Homo sapiens: one gene and its partners. The protein of the gene in region 1 binds, or shares a complex with, the protein of each later gene. Each region holds a gene or a part of one and is shown in the gene's direction. Other genes may lie near its edges.

Region 1 (8,314 bases):
AAGCTGCCTGGCCCAGCCTATACCCTTCCCGACTTGAAATTACTCACAGTAAGAAAGATTAATAATCCTGTTAACCATAACCTTTACATTTCATTCCTTCATTTCTGCGATGCAGTGAGGGAGGGGCTGGCGTTATCTCCACTTCATAGGTGAAAGCTGGGCAACTATGACAGCAGGGGCCAGGGCCTGCCCCGAGCCCCACCGCAGAGCCTGCCTGCCCCTCATCATCACGGTACTTCCCTGGAGCAGTGCGTCTCAAAGGGTGGTCTGAGGACTGGCAGCATCAGCGCCACTGAGGGTTTGCTGGAGGTGCAGATTCCGGGCCCCACCTCTGACCTACTGAACCAGACTCTCTGGGATGGGGCCTGGCAATCTATTTAGCCAGTCCTCAGGGATTCTGATGCTTGCCAAAGCTTGAGAAGAACTGGGCTAGACCTCTGAAGAGGTTGCTGTGTGAACCCAGGAGCACCCCACGTGAGGCCTGTGGAAGAAAGTGGAGGAGGAGAATAAGACCTTCGGCCCACTGTGTGACCTCGGGCCACGTCCTCACCCTCTCTGGGCCTAGAATCTGTCATATTTCTTGGCATGGGATTAGAGGAGGCTGGGAAGATTCTCTGAAATTTATGGCCACCTCTCCTCCTCTATGCCAGCACCCGGCTCCTGTGAGTGGTGCTTTTAGGAGCTCATGTGTTTGCAGCCACCTCATCCTGGCCTTGGCTCGTTGCTGTTTTTAGTACCTTGGAGATGACACTTTGTGACCTCACAGACCATAACCAAAGCCCAAAGTGATAAACACTGGATCATCAAGAAAAGGGTACATCAGGTTTAACCTTTAAGCAGTTAAAACAGAGGAAAAAGTTGCATGGCTCAAAGGCACAAGACCTCGGGTTCCCAGCAGCCTGGTGCTGCAGAAAGCTGCGGTTTCATGGTCCACAGCTCAGCACAGCATCAGGTTGTGGAGACACTTCTGATCCTGCCCTGCCTGGTCCATCCCCCCAACTCCCTTGGGGCCTCTGGGAGCCTCCAGTCCCTTCAGTCACAGTAGTCACTGACGGGACTCTGAACCAGGAGCCTTTCGTGTGGTGGCTGCGGGGTATATGGGGTCTCACCAGCACCTGCTTCCCCTGCCTTGGTAACGCTAAGTGCTGCCATGAGGGGGTGCCTTGTGCCTCCATCAAGAACAGAAAACCCGCAGAGTAAGTCCTCATTCTCTGGCCACGAATGAGGACTTGGAGCCTGAGGACTTGGATGGGCATGCCCACTGTGTCTGCTGTGTGACCACCAGCAAGTCATAGAGTCCCTGCAGGCTTCATCTCTCTTCTGTAAAAGGGGGGCAGAGATAGGCCTCCCCTCGTCAGATGGCTATGGGCAGGGGATAAGTAAAGAACCTGGCCCCAGGCCTGGTCCTGCAAGCCCTTGATATTCCCACTCAAGAGACCAGCTACTCCCCACCACTGGGCCATTCATAACATCCTCCTGCCCCTCCAGGAGGTGGCCTAGAGCTGGTGTGGCCTGAGTCCATTTGCCCTAGGGAGAAAGGGAGGGGAGTCAGGGGAAGAACTGGGGAACCCAGGGTTCTGCCCTAGAAGGCAGGGCCCAGAAGGGGCTCGTGAGGGAACTCCCAGACTCTCAGGGGCCCATGTGGGTGCTGGGCAGAAGCAGGGAGTGAGGACAGCCACATCTCTGCACTGAGACCTGGCCTGAAAATCAGAAGACCTCGGTTCAATTACTGGCTCCATAGCTGTGCTGTGTGACTTTAGGCAGTTGCTTAACCTCTCTGAGCCTGGTCAGTAATTGAGAATAAAGGTCTCTGAGTTTCCTGGTCAGTCATTGAGAATAAAGACACCTAACTGGAAGGCTGTCTATGGCTGTCTTTACTCTCATTTGCCACATGAGATGAAGGACTGACCCACAGTGAGGGTTCAGCAAACAGCAGTGGAGACTAAATTGTCAGTCTAGGGTGCCATGGTCCTTTCCACTCTGGCTCTACAGTTAGATCAGGACAGCAAGGCTCAGAGAGTTTTAGCAGCTTGTCCAAGGTCACACAGGATGTGCACATCATCACCTTTCTGGGCCACTTGCTCCTGCGTAGGACCCTCAGGTTTCAATCTGGCCTGAGGTGAAATCCTCCCAGGGAGCTTTGAGCCTGACTTGGTGCCCGAGTGGGTTTTTTCATTACAGAATGGTAGTCCCGAGGACACAGGAAGAGATGCATCTCTTATATTTTCACTGACAATGCATGAAGGAATGGAAGCATTTCCACAAAAATATCAACACCATGAAGACTGAGCTGTCTGCTGATGGGCTGCCCAGGAGAACTCCCCATTTCTGGAGGTGTGCCAGCAGAAGCTAAGTGACACTGGATGGGAAGTTGGACTTGGTGGCCTTTAAAAGACCCTCCACATGGCTGCAAGGCAAGCCTGAGTCTGCTCAGTTTCCACCCACTCCTCCTCCTGCAGACTCAAGCTCTGCCTCCTAGACTTGGCCTTCAAGGCCTCTGGACTCAATCATCCTCTGTGCTCTCATCTGTCTCTCATCTGGCCTGGGAGCTCCAAAAAAGTAGGCATTGGGCATTTTTATTCAGCAACTGTCCTGGGCCCACCAGAGGAGAGAGGTCATGTTTACTGAGCAAAGGCCCCCGCGACCAGGAACTTCACACGTGTCATTACAGGCCATCCTCATACACCCGGTACTGTAATTAGTTTCACTTTGCAGGTCAGCAAACCAAGGTCAGGAAGGCTGAGCAACCTGCCAAAAGTCACACAACAACATGACTGCCAAAGAAGTGAAGAGATGAAGGAAGGGGCGCTGAGCCTGTGGGCTTCCCGGCTTTTAGCCCCTGGTCCCCAGAGGCATCTGCAGCAGGTGGGCACGCTTGGTTGCCCATCTGCCTCAAATGTGGGGGAGCCCCATCCGGGCACTGAGTAAGGTGGAACCCCACGAGCTGACTAACCACAACCACAGCCTCTGGGGGCGGGGGAGTGGGAGGTGGGGCACTCACCCCCAGCCCACCATAGCCCCAGCCCCGCCCTCCTGGGCCCTAGCAGAAGCTCTGCCATGGCCCAGTGATTTCTGCTTGGTAGCAGCTCCGGGAAGGGTGAGGCAGTGCTCAGCGAGCCTGGGTCTGGATGGCTGGGAGCTGGTCTGATACACAAGGCCAGGAACTGCCCGAATGATCCAGTCACTCTGCTCATACTGCAGGGCAGCTTCAAAGCACTTTCCTGAACATTTGGCCCCTTGGACAGGGACCTGGAAAAGGAAGCCCACAGGATATAGGAGTATCCACCAACTGCCACAATAAAGGCAGTGAGAAGTTGCCTAACAACCACTGGGTGCAGGCTCCAGCTGGATCCATTGCACTTAGTTCTAGCACCAACTCCAAGTAGTAGCTACTATCTTTCCCACTTTACAGATAGGGGCACTGAGGTTCCATTTGACCAAATGGAGCACTAGAGACCAGAGAGGGGGCTGGATGGACCAGCTAGGACCCTGTGGACATAGATCTGAGGCCTTGGGTGGCTGGGAGGGAAGGGAAAGAGGTTTGGATACCCTTCGCAGGCCCTGCTGAGAGATTCCTTACCTGCACCTCCTGCCCATCCCCTCACTGCAGCTCAGGCCTCCTCCTTAGGGAAGCCTTCCCTGATTTCCTCTTCTAAGACTAGGTCAGGCCCCTATGGCACCTGCTATCATGGCTTGTCCTCTCTGGGTTGACCCCATCTCCCCAGATCCATCTCCACAGTGGACTGAACAGGGGTAAGAAAAGGCAGTAACTGTAGAGACTTCAGGGAATCCCGCTTCTGAGCCCAGCCTTACCCTGATTTGCCACAAGGCCCTGGGTGGTCACTTTCATGCATGTAAAATGGGGCACCCTGCCCCACTCTCAGGGCTGGTGACGATCAGGGAAGAGAAACACTGTGGAAGAGGCCCCTTCTACACTTGGAACCAGGACCTGGAGGACAGCCAGGGCCCCTCTCTTCTAGGGACCCGCATACTAGAGTCCACAGGCAGCAAGGCAGGGTACCTGTGATTTGGTAGGGTCAAGGCATCTAGAAGAGAGGTGGCTTTGGGAAAGATCTGCTTCAACCTCCAATCTAAATGACAATACCGCCACCCCATATTTGCACAGTACTTTAAAAATTCGGGCAAGATAATGCCCAAACTGAATCAGACTTAGCTTTATGAACAGATTGGGCTCAAATCACTGATTCTTATTAGCTGTGTTGACTTTGGACACGCCATTTAACCTTTTCTGAGCCTCAGGTTCCCCAGCTATAAATAGGGACCTTACTAGTCTCAGACAATTGGTTTTCATGTGTACACACTGCCCCCACCCCTAGCCTCAGCTTCTCCATCCGAAAACAGGACTTTGATGGTGCCGTTTCACAGGCTGTTGAAGGGTCCCGCAGATGATGGAGGAGTACGGGTCCAGACACTAGAGCACAATCCGGAGAGGAAAAGTGACCTGCCAGGACCCACCAGAGTGGACGGCTTGGTGCGGGGAACCCCCTCCGCGGCCGCCCCAGGGCCAGCGAAGGGTCATTTCCTTCCGCATTCAGCCCCGCCGTCACCTCGCCTGTTTGCCCCCGCGTTAAGTGCGGCGGCGCCAGCAGCTGGGAAATCGGGGCCAGGCCGGATTTCCTCTGTGGACCTGCGGCTCCTAGAGCCACCGCGCCCCCCTCCGGACCCCGCGGGGCCGCGAACTGCACGTGCGGCGGCCGCTGGGATGGGCCTCGCTCCCACGGCGCTTCCTCTGCAACCCCTCTCCCTCCCGCCCTCTCATCCCCCCACACTGGGCCCCCGCCCCTTCCCGGCCGAGGTCCCAGGGTGGTGAAGATGCTTCGCCGCCCCACCCCACTCCGCCCCCGCCGGCTCCGGATAAACCGAGGCACGGGGCCAGGCGCTAGGACCCCACGGCCTCGCCAGAGGGGGGCGTGGCGGGGCGGGCCGGCGGGAGAGGTATTTAAATTGCAGCCGGAGCGCGGGGGCTCCGGTGGGGCAGCTGAGCGGCCTGCTCCTCCTCGGGCCGTGACCCCGGGGTCTGGCGCGGGGTGGGACCCGGGGGCGGGTTTGCGCAAAATGTGCCGAGACTGCCCGGGAGAGGAGCTGCGGCCGCGCTGAGCCAGGTAGGAGCCGCCGGGCAGGCGAGGCTGGCCGGCCCTCGGGGGGCGCACTGTCGCGCGCCTCTAGCGAGCGCAAGGCGGGGGCTGGTCCCAAGGGACGCCCCCCAAACACTCCCCTCCCGCCATCCCCACTGCGCGCGTGGAGCCGGGGCTGACCCTCCCTCGGTCCCTGGGAGTTCCCCAGCGCTCCTGTCTTGGCGGATCTTTCCCGCAAAGGGGTGAGGCCGGCCTTCCCATTTGACAGCTGGGAAAACAATGGCCTGAAGACCGTGACTTGCCCAGGAACACACAGCTAGGCAAGGGCAAACCGGAATTTGAATTCAGGTTTCCTGCAACGCTCCGATCCCAGCCAGGCGTGGGGCTGCCCATCCCACAGCACTAGATGGCCTGCCCATTTCTCGTAGTGGGGTAGGGGGCACCCACCGCTCTCCAAGGGGCTCTGAACCCAGCCTTCTTCATGGGTGGTAAGATGTGAGGGGCCCCCACCCCCACGCCGAGCTGCCTGAAATTCCGCCATCACAGCCACATTCCTTTGGGTTAAGGTCTAATTCCCCCGTGGGATGCACATGTCTCCAGAACGAGGCTTGCCCTTAGTGATTCACTGCTTGACAGGAACGTCCGCAGCAGCTCTCCCAGGACCCCACTCTGCCAGTAAGTCAGCTGAGGCCGAGAGGAGGGAGAGAGGACCTCAGAGGCCAGACTGTGAGCTAGTCTGCCCTGCTCCTGCGTGTGAGGGGTCGTTGGCAGGGCTTAGGGAAGGAGACCTTGATTTGGTATAGTGGGAACATTTGCTTTGGAGACAGATGAACTGGATTCTGATCGTGACCCTGCTATTTTCTCCTTGTGTGACTTTGGGTAAGTCACTTCTCTGAGCCTCCTTTTCTTCATGGGCAAAAAAAAGACAGTTCTATTGGGGGCAGTCGGCTCAGCATGTGCTGGAGAAAACACAGTATTCAGGTCATGTAGAACTGGATAAATCCCAGCTCCAAAGCCCTTATGAGCTGGGTAACTCTGGGGGTAAGTCACTTCACTTTCCGGAAACTGTTTTCTCATCCGTAAAATGGGAATTACAGTAATTTCCTCAATAGGTGATTGTGAGAATTAAATGAGATGATATAGGTCAAGTGCTTAGAAGACTAACATCCTTAAATGTAGGGGTGGGCTTATTGTGGTAGTAGTCATTGCCCCCCGTACCCCTGCTCTTTCTCTCTCACTCTCTCTCTCTCTCTCACACACACACACACACACACACACACACACACACACACACATTCTTTGGCACTTTTCTGAGTTGGACTCCTGAGAGTCCGACTCTCCTGCCTCCTCTTGCCCAGGCCACTTGTCTGCAGGCTTGGGGCCTCCCCACTGAGCACACCTCACCTGGGATGCTCAGCCCTGCGAGGGTCACTGTGTCAGCTGGGAAGGACAGTGAGGATGCAGGGCACCTTCGCCACCATTCTTTGCCTGATCATCACAATAGTTGGGGTTGGCCAGTGGCAGAACTGGAACCCAGCTGCCTACCCTGCAGACAGGACACTGGGGCACCAAGAAAGGAAGGGACTTACCTTAGGGAGCAGAGCTGGTGAGTGGTGGGCTTTGGATGCAAGCCTGGGTCTAAGTGACACCGTCCTCCTTTTTGAGAGAGAGTAGTCTTTAAATGCTACACCCTGTACTTGGGCACCACTGAGGAGGGCCCACAGCTGAGGGGCCCTTCCCGTCAGATGCCAGGACAGAGTGCCCATGTGCTGCAGGGACGATCCCTTCTGGATGTGCACAGGGCCACCTTGGGGATAGAGTGGGGTTTGGCAGAGGAAGGGGAAATAAGGGCCTAGGACCCTTCCTTGTCCTCACCTGGCACTCACCACTCAGTCCACTGCAGCTGAGCTTCTGCCCTGATTTTGCCACTTGTTCACTAGTCTTTAGTGAGTACCTACTTAGTAGGCCCCTGTTCCCACATGATAAGAAATAAATGATGAGGAAATGATAAATGTGGGAAAACAATGACATGTGTGAGGAGCTGAGGAAGAGCATTCAGGGAGAGGAAACTGCAGGAGCAAAGGCCCTGTGGCAGGAATGAATTTGCTGTGTTGAAGGAACAGCAGGAAAGCTGGAATGTGGTGAGGGAAGGGAAAATGGGCAAGAGTCAGAGAGGAGACTGTGGATAGCCTGGATTTTCTTGGAGATTTTCAAACAGAAGAGGTTTAGGATCTGACAGATGATTTTATATTATCACTCTGGCTGCTAGGTACAGGACAGATTATAAGAGGTCAGGGTGCTGTGGTCAAGGCCAGGATTGGGGTGGCGTCTCGGTCTGTGGCAGTGATAAGAGGGAAGTAGGAAGATCCGGGGTCTCTTTCAGGGAGAGCAGTCAGAGCCCACTGACGGCATGGATGGGTGAAGGGAACGTTGCAGAGAGGTGAAGGGAGAGCCAAGGAGAACTGCTCTCAGTAACGACCCCATGTCACCGAGACTCCTAGTGTCGGTTTTCTGTCCGCTGCTGACCTGTTGTGTGCTGTGAGATGCATCTTAAAGGATGGTGAGCCCCTCTCTAGGGGCACTTCCCATGGGAGGGGGTGGGGCCCAGTAGCCACGGAGGGCTTGGTGCTGTGCTCACTGGAAGCTCAGGGGCTCTGGGAGGACTGGAGGACATAGTCCAGACTTGGGGAACCAAAGAAGGCCTCTTGGCCCATCTAAGCTGGGACCCCAAGGATGAGGAGGTCTTTAGCAGAAGAGGAGAGGGGAGAAAGTGAAGGTTTGGGGCAGTGAAAATCTGCTCAGGGAACTGAAGGAAATATGAGGTGTCCAGAACCCAGAATGTGAGAGGGGACACCGGGGAAGCAGGCTGGAGAGCAGAGCTGGCCAGGCAGGGCATGCTCCCCAGTGGCCTGGAAGGCCCTGCCGGAGGGGTTTTCACTCAGTTCTGAATATGCTAACTTTCTAACGGGCGGTGGCGTTCTGCTTTTTAAACAGCAGAACAAAGTTTCCTGTGAAAGCACAACCTGTAATGCAGGTGAGAGCAGAGCAGCTGCAGGGGCAGCGCCTGTGGCCCTGAGGGGAGCCAGGGAATAGGGTTTACCGGGTCCGGCTGTGGTCTGTGCGCCTTCAAGAGAGATGGGATTCAGAGCAGCCATCTTCGTCCATAGCTCATCACTAGCGGGTTCCAACAGTCAAAGACACTGCCCTCAAATGCCCTG
Region 2 (7,675 bases), on another chromosome or scaffold:
TGGCCAACATGGTGAAACCCTGTCTGTACTAAAAATACAAAAATCAGGCCAGCTGTCGTGGCTCACACCTGTAATCCCAGCACTTTGGGAGGCCAAGGTGGGTGGACCACCTGAGGTCAGGAGTTCGAGACCAGTCTGGCCAACGTGGTGAAACCTCCTCTCTACTAAAAATTCAAAAATGAGCCAGGCGTGGTGGCGGGCCCTGTAATCCCAGCTACTCTTGAGGCTGAGGCAGGAGAACTGCTTGAACCCAGGAAGTGGAGGTTGCAGTGAGCCGAGGTCGCGCCATTGCACTCCAGCCTGGGCAACAAGAGTGAGACTCCCGTCTCAAAAAAATAAATAAATAATTAAAAATACAAAAATTAGCAGGGTATGGTGGCAGGCGCCTGTAGTCTTAGCTACTTGGGAGACTGAGGCAGGAGAATCACTTGAACCTGGGAGGCACAGGTTGCAGTGACCCGAGATTGCACCACTTCACTGCATCCTGGGTGACAGAGTGAGACTCCATCTCAAAAATTAAAAAAAAAAAAAAATCCTAAGAGACATATCAACCAATTGCAATGTGTAGACCTTACTTGAATCCTTATTTACACAGGCTTAAAAAAAAAAGATATTTATGAGACAGTTGGGTAAATGTGAACTCTGTCTAGATATTCCTCTAGATATCAAGGAATTGTTAATTTTCTTACATGGTATTGTGACTGTGTTTTAAAGTAGTCTTAATTAGAGATACATTTGAAATATTTATGGATGAAGCAACACGGTGGATTGCATGTGCTTTGAGATAAACCATTGTCGGCTGGCTGCAGTGGCTCACAGCTATAATCCCACCACTTTGGGAGGCCAAGGCAGGAGGATTGCTTGAGCCTAAGAGTTGGAGACCAGCCTGGGCAATATGGTGAAACCCCATCTCCCAAAAAAAAAAATATGAAAAGTAGCTGGGCCTGGTGGTGTGTACCTTTTGTCCCAGCTACTCAGGAGGCTGAGGTGGGAGGTTGGCTTGAGCCCCAGGAGCTGGAGGCCACAGTGAGCTGTGATTGCACCACTGCACTCCAGCCTGGGTGACAGAGTGAGATCCTGTCTCAAAAAAAAAAAAAAAAGAGATAGTGGATAGGGGTAGAGATGCAATGGAAATTGGCCATGAGTTGGTCATTGTTGAAGCTGCTTTTGTGTACATCTGAAACTTTCCAGCTGGACGCGGTGGCTCACACCTGTAATCCCAGCACTTTGGAAGGCTGAGGCGGGTGGATCACATGAGGTCAGGAGTTCGAGACCAGCCTGTCCAACATGGTGAAACCCTGTCTCTACTAAAAATACAGAAAAATTAGCTGGGTATGGTGGTGTGTGCCTGTAATCCCAGCTACTTGGGAGGCTGAGCCAGGAGAATTGCTTGAACTTGGGACATGGAGGTTGCAGTGAGCCAAGATTGCACCACTGCACTCCAGCCTGGGGCAACAGAGCAAGACTCCATCTCAAAAAAAAAAAAAAAAAACTTTCATAGGAAAATTTGTTCTTAAGGCAGCTCGAACACTACCTCCTTCCTAACCCCTTTCTCCAACATCCAAGATGGATGTGAGGCCTCTGGGCTCCCCTGGGGCCCTAAGTAGATCTTTGACTCAACAAACAGTCTCTGTTGGGTCTTTTATTTATAAAAAGTTTTGTAGCGACAGGGTCTCACTATGCTCCCCAGGCTGGTCTTAAACTCCTTGGGCTCAAGCGATTCACCGGTCTTGGCTTCCCAAAGTGCTGAGATTACAGGCGTGAGTCACTGCACCTGGCCTAGGTCTTGAGAGACTGGACGGAAGAGGCTTGGCAAGGGCAAGGGCTGTGGGTATCCCAAGGCCCGGTGCAGGGTAGGCCCCGAATGTGTGCTGAAAAAATGAGTCAGAGGATCACCTAGACGGCTTGTTCAACACGGACTGTTGTTCCCAGTCCTGCACACAATTTCTGATTTCAGTGGCCTGGGGTGCCACCTGAGAATCTGCATTTCCCATAGTTCCCAGGTGATGCTGCCGCTGGTCCTGGGAGCTCACGTGGAGAGCTGCTGACTTGGATAACAGTATCACAGATTGTTCAAATCCTAGGATCTCAGAACCCCAGCTAGGGTTGAACTGCATATTAAAGATGATTCTGAGCCGGGTGCGGTGGCTCATGCCTGTAATCCCAGCACTTTGGGAGGCCGAGGTGGGTGGGTCACCTGAGGTCAGGAGTTTGAGACCAGCCTGACCAACATGGTGAAACCCAGCCTCTACTAAAAATACAAAAAATTAGCCAGGCATGGTGGCACATGCCTGTAATCCCAGGTACTTGAGAGGCTGAGGCAGGAGAATTGCTTGAACCCGGGAGACGGAGGTTGCAGTGAGCTGAGATCACACCATCGCACTCCAGCCTGGGCAACAGGAGGGAAACTCCATCTCAAAAAAAAAAAAAGATTCCGGACACTAGTTCTTCCCCTTTTGTGAGTTCAGAACTTCCTGTGAGAAAGTGAAAGCCAGGACTCTTTTTCCCAGAAATACATGCATACATACACACATGTGCATATGATCTCAGGCACTCATGGCCCTCCCTAAGCCTGCCCATGATGGCCCCTTGGCCCTCAGCTTAACACCTTATTTTATCTAGTAGCTCCTACCTCTGAACAGATGAGGAAACTGAGGTCCAACCAAATTGGGTGGTACGGGCTGAGTTCACAGGGATCTCAGTTTCTTGACTTCCTTCTCAGGCTTCTGTGGCTCTTGGAAAGGCTTTATCTTGCCTCTAGGTTATCCGGTGCCACTTGAAGTTGGGTTCAAGCGATTCTCCTGCCTCAGACTCCCCAGTAGCTGGGATTACAGGTGCCCGCCACCAGGTCCAGCTAATTTTTGAATTTTTAGTAAAGACAGGGTCCTCAAGTCTGCCTGCCCTAGCCTCCCAAAGTGCCGGGATGACAGGCGTGAGCCACCGTGCCTGGCTGGCCCCACCAATCTATGAGCAGAGGTTGCAGTGAGCCAAGATTGCACCACTGCACTCCAGCCTGGGTGACGGAGCAAGACTCTGTCTCAAAAAAAAAAAAAAAAAAAAAAGGCATTGTCAACTTTTTCTTTTCTTTTCTTTCTTTTTTCTTTTCTTTTCAAGACAGAGTCTCACCCTGTTGCCCTGGGTGGAGTGCAGTGGCACGATCTTGGCTCACTGCAACCTCTGCTTCTTGGGTTCAAGCAGATTCTTGTGCCTCAGCCTCCTGAGTAGCTGGGATTACAGACAAGCACCGCCACACCCAGCTAATTTTTGTATTTTTAGTAGAGACGGGGTTTCGCCATGTTGGTCAGGCTGGTCTCAATCTCCTGATCTCAGGTGATCCACCCGCCTTGGCCTCCCAAAGTGCTGGGATTACAGGCGTGAGCCACTGCACCCGGCCTCTTTGACAGTTCTAAGAAGTAAAATAAACCAGAAGAAGGCAGGCAGAGAGTAATAGATATTGGGAACTGTTATTTTTCCTATTCTGATTTAAATTCCTTTATTATGGAAAATTTCAAATGTATACAAAAGCAATGAAGATAATGAATGCCCGTAAACTCTCATCCAGCGTCATCGGTAATTAAGATTTTGCCCCATTTCAAATGCAGACATTTTTATATTTTCTTGCATAACTGCAATACCGTATTGCACTAAATGGAACTAACAGTCACTTGGATATTTTGGAAAGGATGGCTCAGAAAGGTATCTCTGAGGAGGTGATGTTCAGTCATGTAACTGATATTTACTAGTACCTACTGCATTCCAGACACTGCTTTAGGAGTTAAGGGTCCCTGAGTGAAGGACATTTGAGCTAAGGTTTAAATGAAGTGAAGGGGCCAGGTGTGGTGGCTCATGCCAGTAATCCCAATGCTTTGGGAGGCCGAGGCGTGCGGATCGTTTGAGCCCAAGTTCGACACCAGCCTCAGCAACATAGTGAGACCGTGTCTCTAAAAAGAATAACAAATTAAAAAGAATAAATAGGCCAGATGCAGTGGCTCAGGTCTGTAATACCAGCACTTTGGGAGGCTGAGGTGGGCGGATCACAAGGTCAGGAGTTCGAGACCAGCCTGGCCAACATGGTGAAACCCTGTCTCTACTAAAAAGACAAAAAAATTAGCCGGGCATGGTGGCACACGCCTGTAATCCCAGCTACTCGGAAGGCTGAGGCAGGAGAATCGCTTGAACCTGGGAGGCGGAGGTTGCAGTGAGCCGAGATCATGCCACTGCACTCCAGCCTGGCAGACAGAGTGAGACTCTGTCTCAAAAAAAAAAAAAAAAAAAAATAGAAAAAAAAAGAAGAAATGAAGTGAAGGAACAAGCTGGAGTGGGTATCTGTGGGACTAGCAAGGCAGGCAGAGGGAACAGCAGATGCAGGAGCCCCGAAATAAGACTGTCTGAGGAACAGACAGGACGCCAGTGTGGCTGGAGTGGAGTAGGCGTGAGAGAGGGAGTTGAGATCAGCCAGATTTGATAGCACCTTGTGGCTCACGGTGAGGACTTGGGCATTTGCCGTGAGATGGAGCCAGGTTCAGAGCAGAGGAGTGACAAGACAATTTATAGCATGCCCATGGAGGGCAGAGATTTCTGTCTCTTTTTTAAAAAAATTGAAAAAAAATTTTGTAGAGACAGGGTCTTGCACTTTGTTGTCCAGGCTGGCATGCAGTGGTGTTATCATAGTTCACTGCAACCTCGAACTCCTCGACTCCAGCGATCCTCCCACTTCATCCTCCCAAAGTGCTGGGATTAAAGGTGTGAGCCACCATGCCTAGCCTATTTCTATCTGTTTCATTTGTCCTCAGTCCACAGTAGATCCCAGCCCAGCACACAGTAGTAGTTCAATAAACATTTGTTGCACAAATAGAGCAGATCAGTTTACATGGAGCTGTGTTATTTTGTATGTTCCAGGGTGTGGCATGCCATGATTTATTTAGCCCCCCCGTGGATGGTCATCTGGCTTCTTACAGGCTTGTCTTAAGCATTGCGTGAAATTAATTATTACATTGCTCTTAGCACTGGAGGAAGTGCTTAATCTGTGTTAGTGATTATCATGACTATTTGTGTTGTTATTAACACAGTGGGTGCAAGGGAGACCCAGATGGAGATAGGGCTGGGGGGGCAACCTAGGGTGACACACGCACCTGGGGAGGAGGGGCATGTGGCTTCTATGGTGGTAGCCCCTCCCTGCCCCTGACGCGTCTCTCCTGCCTGCAGCTCCACGGAGAAGAACTGCTGCGTGCGGCAGCTGTACATTGACTTCCGCAAGGACCTCGGCTGGAAGTGGATCCACGAGCCCAAGGGCTACCATGCCAACTTCTGCCTCGGGCCCTGCCCCTACATTTGGAGCCTGGACACGCAGTACAGCAAGGTACGTCTGGCCCACCGGGCTACGAGATGCGCTTGGGGGGAGCCAGGACGGAGGAAGAGGAGAGAGAAAGAGAAGTAAAGTCAGAGAGGTGAGTTGGCAGGATGGGGAGAAAGAGAGGGATGGGGTGGGGAGGGGAATGAATAAAGAGATGGGGAGAGAGGCAGGAAGCTAGAGAGGGGCTCTGAGCAGGGGCCAGAGGGAGATGAGCTATGAAGACCCACAGAGTGAAGTAACAGAGGGATGGGGGTGAAGGGGAGAAGAGAGACAGGGAGATGGAAGGAAAAACGCAGAAATGGAGAGACAAAATGAGAGAGACAGATACAGACACAGAGTTAGGCCAAGGAGAGACAAAGACAGATACACAACAAGGCAAGAGGCGAAGATGAGGAGGGACAGAGACTGAGAAAGAAAATCAGGCGGGCGCGGCGGCTCACGATGGTAATACCAACACTTTGGGACGCTGAAGCAGGAGGATCGCTTGAGCCCAGGAGTTCGAGAGTAGCCCAGGCAGCAGACTGAGATCCCATCTCTACCAAAAAAAAAAAAAAAAAAAAAAAAAAAGCTAGGAGTGGTGGCGCTTGCCTGTGGTTGGAGCTACTCCGGAGGCTGAGGCGGGAGGATGGCTTGCGCTCAGGAGGTTGAGGCTGCAGCGAGCCATGATCGTGCCACTATACTCCAGCCTGGGTGGCAGAGCGAGACCCAGTCTCAAAACAAAAAGAAAATCAGACAGGTGGGGAGAGACAGAATAAGATAGGATGTTAGAAGATAAGAGAGACCGAATTGGAGATGGGAAGAGGGGATGCGGGGAGAGACGAAGTGAGAGAGGCTGGCGCGGTAGCGGGTGGGGGATGGGGCAGTGGAGGGCCGTTTTCCTCCCTCCACGAGCCCTGAGCCCTGACCCCGCCCGCCGCCCGCAGGTCCTGGCCCTGTACAACCAGCATAACCCGGGCGCCTCGGCGGCGCCGTGCTGCGTGCCGCAGGCGCTGGAGCCGCTGCCCATCGTGTACTACGTGGGCCGCAAGCCCAAGGTGGAGCAGCTGTCCAACATGATCGTGCGCTCCTGCAAGTGCAGCTGAGGTCCCGCCCCGCCCCGCCCCGCCCCGGCAGGCCCGGCCCCACCCCGCCCCGCCCCCGCTGCCTTGCCCATGGGGGCTGTATTTAAGGACACCCGTGCCCCAAGCCCACCTGGGGCCCCATTAAAGATGGAGAGAGGACTGCGGATCTCTGTGTCATTGGGCGCCTGCCTGGGGTCTCCATCCCTGACGTTCCCCCACTCCCACTCCCTCTCTCTCCCTCTCTGCCTCCTCCTGCCTGTCTGCACTATTCCTTTGCCCGGCATCAAGGCACAGGGGACCAGTGGGGAACACTACTGTAGTTAGATCTATTTATTGAGCACCTTGGGCACTGTTGAAGTGCCTTACATTAATGAACTCATTCAGTCACCATAGCAACACTCTGAGATGCAGGGACTCTGATAACACCCATTTTAAAGGTGAGGAAACAAGCCCAGAGAGGTTAAGGGAGGAGTTCCTGCCCACCAGGAACCTGCTTTAGTGGGGGATAGTGAAGAAGACAATAAAAGATAGTAGTTCAGGCCAGGCGGGGTGGCTCACGCCTGTAATCCTAGCACTTTTGGGAGGCAGAGATGGGAGGATTACTTGAATCCAGGCATTTGAGACCAGCCTGGGTAACATAGTGAGACCCTATCTCTACAAAACACTTTTAAAAAATGTACACCTGTGGTCCCAGCTACTCTGGAGGCTAAGGTGGGAGGATCACTTGATCCTGGGAGGTCAAGGCTGCAGTGAGCCCTGACTGTGCCACTGTATGCCAGCCTGGGTGACAAAGCAAGACTCCATCTTTTTTTTATGTTTTTTTTTTGAGACGGATTTTCACTCTTGTTGCCCAGGCTGGAGTGCAATGTCGAGATCTTGGCTCACCACAACCTCTGCCTCCCGGGTTTAAGCGATTCTCCTGCCTCAGCCTCCCAAGTAGCTGGGTAGCTGGGATTACAGGCATGCGCCACCATGCTCGGCTAATTTTGTATTTTTTTTTAGTAGAGACGAAGTTTCACCATGTTGTTCAGGCTGGTCTCGAACTTCTGACCTGAGGTGATCCGCCCGCCTCGGCCTCCCAAAATGCTGAGATTACAAGCATGAGCCAGCGCACCCAGCCAAGACTGCATCTTTAAAAAAAAAAAAAAAAAAAGACTGGGCACGGTGGCTCACACCTGCAATCCCAGCACTTTGGGAGGCTGAGGCAGGGGGATCACTTGAGGTCAGGAGTTTGAGACCAGCCTGGACCACATGGTGAAAC
Region 3 (7,675 bases), on another chromosome or scaffold:
GCAGGCAGGGGAGGGTGGTCAGCAGAGCACACAGCAAGGGGTGAAAGGAACCTGGCTGGAGAGAAGGAACAGGAGTGGGTACCGATGGGTGGACCAGCTCTGGCTGGAGGTGCAAAGGCCCCGTTCACGGCTCCACGCCAGGCAGAGGAGCCTGTGGTTACTGGCGAGGGGTTCCCGCTCCAGCTTCCTGTGGCTGCCTGGAGCGCCTTTCTTCAGGATGTGGCTGCCATGTGGGGCGGAGGCTGGAGGCCGATGCAGAGCTACTACTCCCTGCCCAGGGTCTCTGGGTGGGGCTGGCTCAGAGACCCACAGTTCCCAGAGGCACCTAGCAGCTCGATGGCCAAGGCTCCAACTCCCTGGGAACCCACCAACGCGGGAGATAGTGACCACAAGCATCAGAGGAAGGTCGAAATCTGAGGCCGGCAGGAGAGGTGTGAGGAGAGTCCAGGGCAAGAGGGCAGGACTCAGACCTTCATGGTCTGGGTCAGCAGGAGGAGTCCAAGGGAGGAAGCATTCTGAGTCACCAGGACCCCCCCATCCCGGAATCCTGAGCTGAGAATGAATGAGCCACGTGGAGGCAAGGCCATGCAGGTGCAAGTGGACACTGATTTTGTGCAGACTCAAAGCACAAATAGCAGATGTCCTTGGGAAAAGCCCGGGCAGGGCCCCATAGATGCTGGGCAGCTTCCAGGCTGCAGTACCAAGACCTTACAACTGCAACAGATGGGTGGATGTGGGGTTATGGAGCAATGGTCTGGCCTGGGGCAACCCAGCACAGTGAGCAGGATGCTGTTCAGGATGCTGGGGAGGAGCCAACGTGCGATGCTATGAGGCTCACAGGTACAAACCGGAAGCAGGCAGACTCTGCAGCTGTTGGAGGTGACTTGGAGGCTGAGCAGACGGACCTGGGCCCGCCCTGCAGCTGGTCGGGTGCTGAGCCCACCCCAGAGAGGCAGACACACAAGGCACACTAACTATAAAGAAGGCAGTGGGCAGGTGCTGAGCAGGAGCAGAGAGCCATCATCAGGGGCTTGCAAGGCGGCGGGGCGGGGTGGGGGAAGGAAGCCTGTCTTTAACTCATGAGGGCAGACAGGGGTGACACCAGGTCTGTGGTGGGGCACAGCAGGGTCTCAATGCCAGAGCCTCTGCTGGGAGGTCATGAGATCACGTTCTGTTCCATATTTCCTCACTTCTGGCCACTTCCCTGACCCAGTGAACATGCATTCAAAGGAAAGTGACAGTAGGAGCCAGGGCAAGGAGATAGAGGTCCCTGGAGAGGAAAATGAAAGAGGAAATACTTTTTAGTAGTGCAGGAGAAAGGGCACCAAGGTGAGAGCAGAGAGGAAGGCCTTTTCCTAAATAACCTTTTCTCCCTGTTTTACAGATAAGGAAACTGAGACCTGGATTGCTTAAGTAATTTGTCCAAAAAGAGCAGGGACCCTAACCTAGACATTCTGTGTGCAGGACGCATGTAGTTAAGCACTCATTTATATGTAAAATACACGTTGTAAGTGTTACCTTTAACCTCCTTTAACCTTTAGGGTTCAGTAGAACTTTGATTTATAACATAAATGAATCATGTGTTGGACCAAGCAGGAGAGGTCAGAGTTATTATCTTAGTAACCCAGGTGGCAGATTGCACAATGATAACTGGATTTGTTCTTCCTTAGCTCTGCATTTTTTTTTTTTTTTTTTTGCCCGGGAGATTCATACTGCCACAAATGTTCTCCCTAATTTAATGAAGGAGTTTTCTTTATTTAATGAAGAGTCTCAAGCAGGTTAAGCAACCGCAGCTACGTAAAAGTGACCTCTCTGAGCCTCAGTTTCCCCAGCTGTAAAGTTAGAGATGATTTCCAAACTCCTTTTCAGCTGAAAGAATTTTATAATTCCATCTGGGATGAATCAGCAGAGCCTCTATTGGGGAGTATGGGCAAGACTCTGTAATCCTTTTTCTAATTCTCCAGGATTTTACTGTCGGGAGGGAGTAGAGAGTTTCTCTGACCCCATGTGATGGGAAAGGACACAGCTTTTTTACTTCCGTTGTCATCCCTCTTACAAAGGTATCACCAATGTAGGTGTCATTTTATCTTCTGGCTTGTAATTATCTGTCTCTGTTCGGAGACTTGTTGTTTTCAGCCAAGGGCAGCGCTAAGACAACCAGCAAACCCAGAGTTTCTCAGCAAAGAGAAAACTCTATATTTTAGTCTTTGTTCTCTAGCTGCTAAGTGTAGATTTTGTTTATTCTGAGAATTATTCTGAAAATCATTTGCTCCAAGGGCCAATGCCCTCTGCACAGTAGAGGTCAGCACTTCTCCAAGTGTGGTCCAGAGGAAGCTGGAGGTAAATGTAGATTCCCTGGTCCCACCCACCCTTATAGAATCAGAATCTTGAGGGGGTGGAGTCTTGGGGAACCTGTATTTTCGACAAGCTCCTTATGGATTCTTAAGCACATTGAAGCTTAAGAGTCAGTGAACTAGGGCGAAACTTTTCTTAGAGGGATGGCAAACACAAGTGCCTACAGAGACCCGGCAGGAAATGCAAATGATCTGGAAGAAAAGCCACGGCGTCATGATAAACTGCACCAGGACACTTGGTCTTGGGGTCAAGAAGAAAGTAGGGTGTGTGAGACAGGGAGAGGGAGGGGACCTGGAGCCCACGTGCCCAGCCAAAGCAGCAGCCAGCCTCAGTTCTTGCTGGGTTTTGCATTGAGGACTGTGGGTCCAGCTTGATTAGTTCTTCCCGTGTCCCAGAAAAGCAGAAAATCTGGATCTTTCTGTGAAGTGTTCCAATTTTTAACATGGGCTTAAAATGTTTATGGGCTTCTAACTCAAAATTTTTAAAGGTGTTCCATCAGCGAAACAACATGTCTAATTCATTTAACGGTTAATCAATAGAAAGCTCACACCATTAAAGCAGTGGTTTCTCAAACTTCCAGAACATCTAGAAGCCATGGTGCCCTTTGCAACACATTATAATCTGTGGTTCTCAACCCTGGCTGCACGTTAGAATCATCTGGAGATCTTGAAAAAAATATGCCGTGGACCCCACTCACTCCAGTGTAGTCAGAACTGCTGGGGAATGGGTCCAGGAATCATTTGTTTTTAAAGCTTTCCAGGTGATTCTAATGTGCAGCCAGGGTAGAGAAGTACAGCCACACTGATAAATATAGTCCCTTCACTAGAACCAGCAGAAATGATATATACAAGCAAAGGCACACCTAGCCACCCAGGTGTCTGAACACATTTTAAAAGGCAGTTAACTAAACATGGTCAGCTATTTCCTGGTTTTTCCATGCATACTGTACATGAATATTCTTTGCTTATGTTTTGCCCCGTTAAACAAAATAGAGAAAATGGCATTCACCAATATATATTTTTTCTGTGCAATGGAAAAAGTTGCTCAAGATTTAATTTGTAAAGGTGGGACCCCCTAGTCCAGCTCTCAATAATACTAGTGTTCTGTGAGGCATGGCTTAAGAACCACAAACTCGTTTGCAGTGGGTCATTGTCTGAGGCATAGGTTGACACTCTAGGCCCATTTAGTGGAATCTTGCCATATTTTGTTGATGAAACCATCTTCACCAGATGATCTCCCAGATCCCTCCCAGCTTGAAGAGTCTCTGCTTCAATAAATGAGGTATGTTCAGAAGACCTGGGTTCAAACCCCACCTCCACCACCTTCTAGTTATGTGACCTTGGGAAAGACATTTAACTTTTTGAGGCTCAGTTTTCTCATTTGTCAAGTGATAAATTTTACATGTTTTCATTCTTCTCAGGGGTTGTTAGAAGGTCACATGAAGTAATAAAAACTCGACAAAACAAGGTGGTGCTATTACATTTTGCTTATTTATGTATACGATGATTCATTCCACAGATTACTTAAAACATCATTATTCAGTGAATTTGATTGTCAAGAAGATTGTATGTACATTTTCTTTGATCTCCCAGGCAATTCTTTTTTTTAATTAATTTTAATTTTAATTTTTTTGACAGAGTCTCACTCTGTCACCCAGCCTGGAGTGCACTGGTGCAATCTCGGCTCACTGTAGCTTCTGCCTTCTGGGTTCAAGTGATTCTCATGCCTCAGCCTCCCGAGTAGCTGGGGTTACAGGTGCCCACCACCACACCCAGCTAATTTTTGTATTTGGAGTAGAGATGGGGTTTTGCCATGTTGGCCAGGCTGGTCTCGAACTCCTGACCTCCAGTGATCCACCTGCCTCGGCCTCCCAAAGTGCTGGGATTACAGGCATGAGCCACTGTTCTCGGCCTTTAAAATTTTTAATTTTAAATAATAGGGATAGGTCCTCCCTATGTTGTCCAGGCTGATCTTGAACTCCTGGGCTCAAGCAATCCTCCCGCCTCAGCCTCCCGAGTAGCTGAAATAACAGACATGTGCTACCATGCCCAGCTAATTTTCGTATTTTTTATAGAGATGGGGTTTCACCATGTTGGCCAGGCTGGTCTCAAACACCTGAGCTCAAGCAATCCACCCACCTCAGCCTCCCAAGGTGCTGGCTGGGATTACAGGCGTGAGCCACCATGCCTGGCTGCCAATTCTTCTTCTTCTTCTTCTTTTTTTTTTTTTTTTTGAGATGGAGTCTCACTCTGTTGCCCAGGCTGGAGTGCAGTGACACAATCTCAGCTCACTGCAACCTCGACCTCCCAGGTTCAAGTGACTCTCCTGCCTCAGCCTCCTGAATAGCTAGGATTACAAGCATGCACCATCATGCCTGGCTAATTTTTGTATTTTTAGTAGAGACGGGGTTTCACCTTGTTGCCCAGGTGCCAATTCTTTTTTAATCACTAGCAATTGTGTCCTAAGCTTTGCTTGCTAGTGTCAAGTTGCTTGTGTCAGCTAACTTCTGAGTGACTCTGGCCAAGACCCTCTAGACAGCCATTTCTTCCTCTGAAGAGGGTTGCGCCACATGACTCCTGATGTCCCTTCTAATCATGGGAAATCTATATATCCCAGTAATAGAAAAATGACCTTTCCCACCTCTTTCTTGAAACCTTAAAATTCTCCCCAGGATGTGTTCATCCTGGGGAGCAGATTATGATTGATAGGCTGGAAGAAACCAAAGAGGACGGCCACTAGGGTGTCCTGAGAACTCTCTTAGCTCATAACTTTCCCCATCTCCTGGCTTCCCACTGCCTTGACCCACTCTGACTGTCTCACCAGCAAGTGCCATTTTCCATCTCCCTTCTTTTTTTTCTGAGATGGAGTCTCACTCTGTTGCCCAGGTTGGAGTGCAATGGCACCACCTCAGCTCATTGCAACCTCTGCCTCCTGGGTTCAAGCGATTCTCCTGCCTCAACCTCCTCAGTAGCTGGGATTACAGGCACGCACCACCAGGCCTGGCTAATTTTCATATTTTTAGTAGAGACAGGGTTTCACCATGTTGGTCAGGCTGGTCTCAAACTCCTGATGTCGTGATCTGCCCACCTCGGCTTCCCGAAGTGCTGGGATTACAGGCGTGAGCCACCGTGCCCGGCCCCATCTCCCTTCTTTTTACAGCAAGGTGCATGTTGCACTGACTTACCCTTTATTCCTCTTGTAGTCACTGGAGCTGTGTTATTTATTTACTTTATTAATTTATTTATTTACTTGAAACAGAGTCTCCCTCTGTTGCCCAGGCTGGAGTGCAGTGGCACAATCCTGGCTCACTGCAATCTGGACCTCCCGAGCTCAAGTGATCCTCCCAGCAGGTGCTATTGTAACTGAAGCCATATCAATAACAGCTCCTTCAAAACCCAGCTCTGTTGTCCTTGATAGGGTTGCCAATGCAAGTAGCTTATCCACATTCAGAGTATTACAAACTTGTAAACTTACACATTACTTAACTATCACTGATTTCTCTCCTTGGTTCTATCTGAAATGGTTTAGGGAATCGTTGGCAGTATCTGTTCTTTCAAAGCCAATTATTAATCAGGGCTTCATTAGACAGCATTCACACATTTGTTTTCCTAACATCTGTTCCATTAATTTTCTAAGAACCAGCGTCAGGCCCACCAGATGGCAATTTCCAGAAACACTCACTCATCCTTTCCTGAAGATCAGTAGCGCATTTGCTTGTTTCCAGGCCTCTGATCCTTCCTGCCTTGTCTGTGACTTCCTCAACAACCCCTCGGGGTGATTATAAGCTCATTCCAGCCATGTCCATTATGTGTGGAATCTGGGTCTATGAGCTTGAATTTCAACTTCGGGCTATTGTTACCATTTGTGCAGAAAGTTTTTCTCTGGGTGTTAATACTGCTCAGACCTTGAGGCTGTCAAGTGTACAGGAGCAGAGAAAAGACAGGCTCTTTCTCTTTCTCTGGCTCAGAGGGGTGGGAAAGAGCATTCGCTGCCCACATCTTGTGGACAGGGATGAAGAGGCCAGCAGGTGACAGCGTCTGGCATAGCACGTGCTGTCAAGGAAAGAGAAAGGAGCCAATGGTGACACACCAGCTTGGTCAGAGGAAGCATCTGTGTTTCTGCCAGGCTCATGATGTGGGCTCTTTGCTATATAAGCCCTGCTTTATTGGGTCTAAAACACAAGGTTGAGATGTCACTGCACTGCTCAAACACTTTCAGTGACTCCCTACTGTTAATGGGTTAAAATTTAACCTTTTAGTCTGACAGGTGGACCCCAATCTATCATCTTGCCCTTTCTCACCTGGCTCCCACCTGCTGTTTCGGGCCCCTCTTACTCATTTGCATTTCCTCCCCTCCCTGCCTTTGCTTCCAGCAGTCACTCCATGTAACATTTCTTTCCTCCCCATCCTCAAATCCTCTCAATTTTCACCCCTTCCGTGAAGTGCTCCTTGCCATTTCCCTCCTTTGATTTCCTGCAGCAACTCCTGGACTTCTCTGAAAACCACTGGTTTCCTGTCGCTCCCCTCACCTGTGCTCCTGCATTGTGACATCTTCCGGGGCACTCTGTCCTATTATTTCTCTCTAGTCCTGTTATTTGGGCCCATGTATTAATACCCCCCCTTAGATATTAACCCATAAGCCTGAGGCTGCACTTTTTTGAATTTTGAAATCAGACCTTGGCCTTGACCTTGAGCAGCAGGATATAAATAACTCTTACATGCTTAGCGTTCCAATAATGGAACACCAGGCATAAATGGGTTTTAATCCCCTTGAAGGCAGGGGTTGTGTCTACTCATGTTTTGCTTCCCAAGGTTAGCACTATGCTTGGCATATAGTAGCTGCTCAATACATCTTTGATAAATGAATGAATGCCCAGATGAACAAACACACGAATAAATCAACTAGCTGTAAGATATGTAAACTACTAGGTGCTGATATCTTTCTAGAATCAGTATTTTCTCAAAAAGTAGGAAAAACGGGTTGGAAAACTTACCAGAACTGAGATGTCAAGGCAGTGGGAGGAGGGGGCAATTAGATTTGACTGGCCAGTCTAGTGCCATGTTGTGGAGCTCTGAGGCCACACTGCTCCTTGCTCAGGACTGTGTGTGATTCTAGGGCCACCAAGAATCTTCCTCGTATCTCCACCTTGCGGTCTGAGGCCTCAAGCCTCTAGGGAGGTGGCAGGCGGGACGGTGGCCACTTGGTGCCTGTCCGTTGGCAGCACACTGTTCCTGCATGTCTCGCTCATGCTGTGCCCTCTGCTCTGCTTTATCTCCTAGACGAACTGGCTGTCTGCCCTAAAGGAATTACCTCCAAGGTT

The links.
Region 2: the proteins of LRRC32 (region 1) and TGFB1 are in contact, whole or in part, in a cryo-EM structure (PDB 8VSC), measured with the Homo sapiens proteins. Residues at the interface, in NP_001122394.1 of Homo sapiens: Ser135, Tyr137, Glu158, Ser160, Thr162, Val184, Met186, Asp187, Ile188, Glu189, Asp190, Phe193, Leu202, Leu204, Arg206, Asn207, Ser208, Leu209, Thr210, Cys211, Ile212, Ser213, Asp214, Phe215, Ser216, Leu217, Leu223, Leu225, Cys227, Ser229; in NP_000651.3 of Homo sapiens: Leu30, Ser31, Thr32, Cys33, Lys34, Pro325 (codon at 5,318), Pro327 (codon at 5,324), Tyr328 (codon at 5,327), Ile329 (codon at 5,330), Trp330 (codon at 5,333), Ser331 (codon at 5,336), Leu332 (codon at 5,339), Thr334 (codon at 5,345), Gln335 (codon at 5,348), Tyr336 (codon at 5,351), Val339 (codon at 6,277), Leu342 (codon at 6,286), His346 (codon at 6,298), Ala353 (codon at 6,319), Pro354 (codon at 6,322).
Region 3: the proteins of LRRC32 (region 1) and TGFB3 are in contact, whole or in part, in a cryo-EM structure (PDB 8VSB), measured with the Homo sapiens proteins. Residues at the interface, in NP_001122394.1 of Homo sapiens: Ala110, Ser135, Tyr137, Ser160, Val184, Met186, Asp187, Ile188, Asp190, Phe193, Leu202, Leu204, Arg206, Asn207, Ser208, Thr210, Cys211, Ile212, Ser213, Asp214, Phe215, Ser216, Leu217, Cys227, Asn228, Ser229, Lys254; in NP_001316868.1 of Homo sapiens: Leu24, Ser25, Thr26, Cys27, Thr28, Leu30, Pro347, Pro349, Tyr350, Leu351, Arg352, Thr357, His358, Val361, Leu364, Leu368, Ser375.

The regions. Positions count from the first base shown.
Region 1 is NC_000011.10:76,667,423-76,675,736, reverse strand, and holds the start of LRRC32 (transforming growth factor beta activator LRRC32 isoform a precursor), read left to right. Parts: upstream 1-4,989; 5' UTR 4,990-5,123; exon of another isoform or gene 5,124-5,975; intron 5,976-8,314.
Region 2 is NC_000019.10:41,329,812-41,337,486, reverse strand, and holds the end of TGFB1 (transforming growth factor beta-1 proprotein preproprotein), read left to right. Parts: intron 1-5,205; coding exon 5,206-5,359; intron 5,360-6,276; coding exon 6,277-6,435; 3' UTR 6,436-7,164; downstream 7,165-7,675. UniProt on the Homo sapiens protein: Transforming growth factor beta-1 proprotein: Precursor of the Latency-associated peptide (LAP) and Transforming growth factor beta-1 (TGF-beta-1) chains, which constitute the regulatory and active subunit of TGF-beta-1, respectively.
Region 3 is NC_000014.9:75,971,678-75,979,352, reverse strand, and holds part of TGFB3 (transforming growth factor beta-3 proprotein isoform 1 preproprotein), read left to right. Parts: intron 1-7,634; coding exon 7,635-7,675. UniProt on the Homo sapiens protein: Transforming growth factor beta-3 proprotein: Precursor of the Latency-associated peptide (LAP) and Transforming growth factor beta-3 (TGF-beta-3) chains, which constitute the regulatory and active subunit of TGF-beta-3, respectively.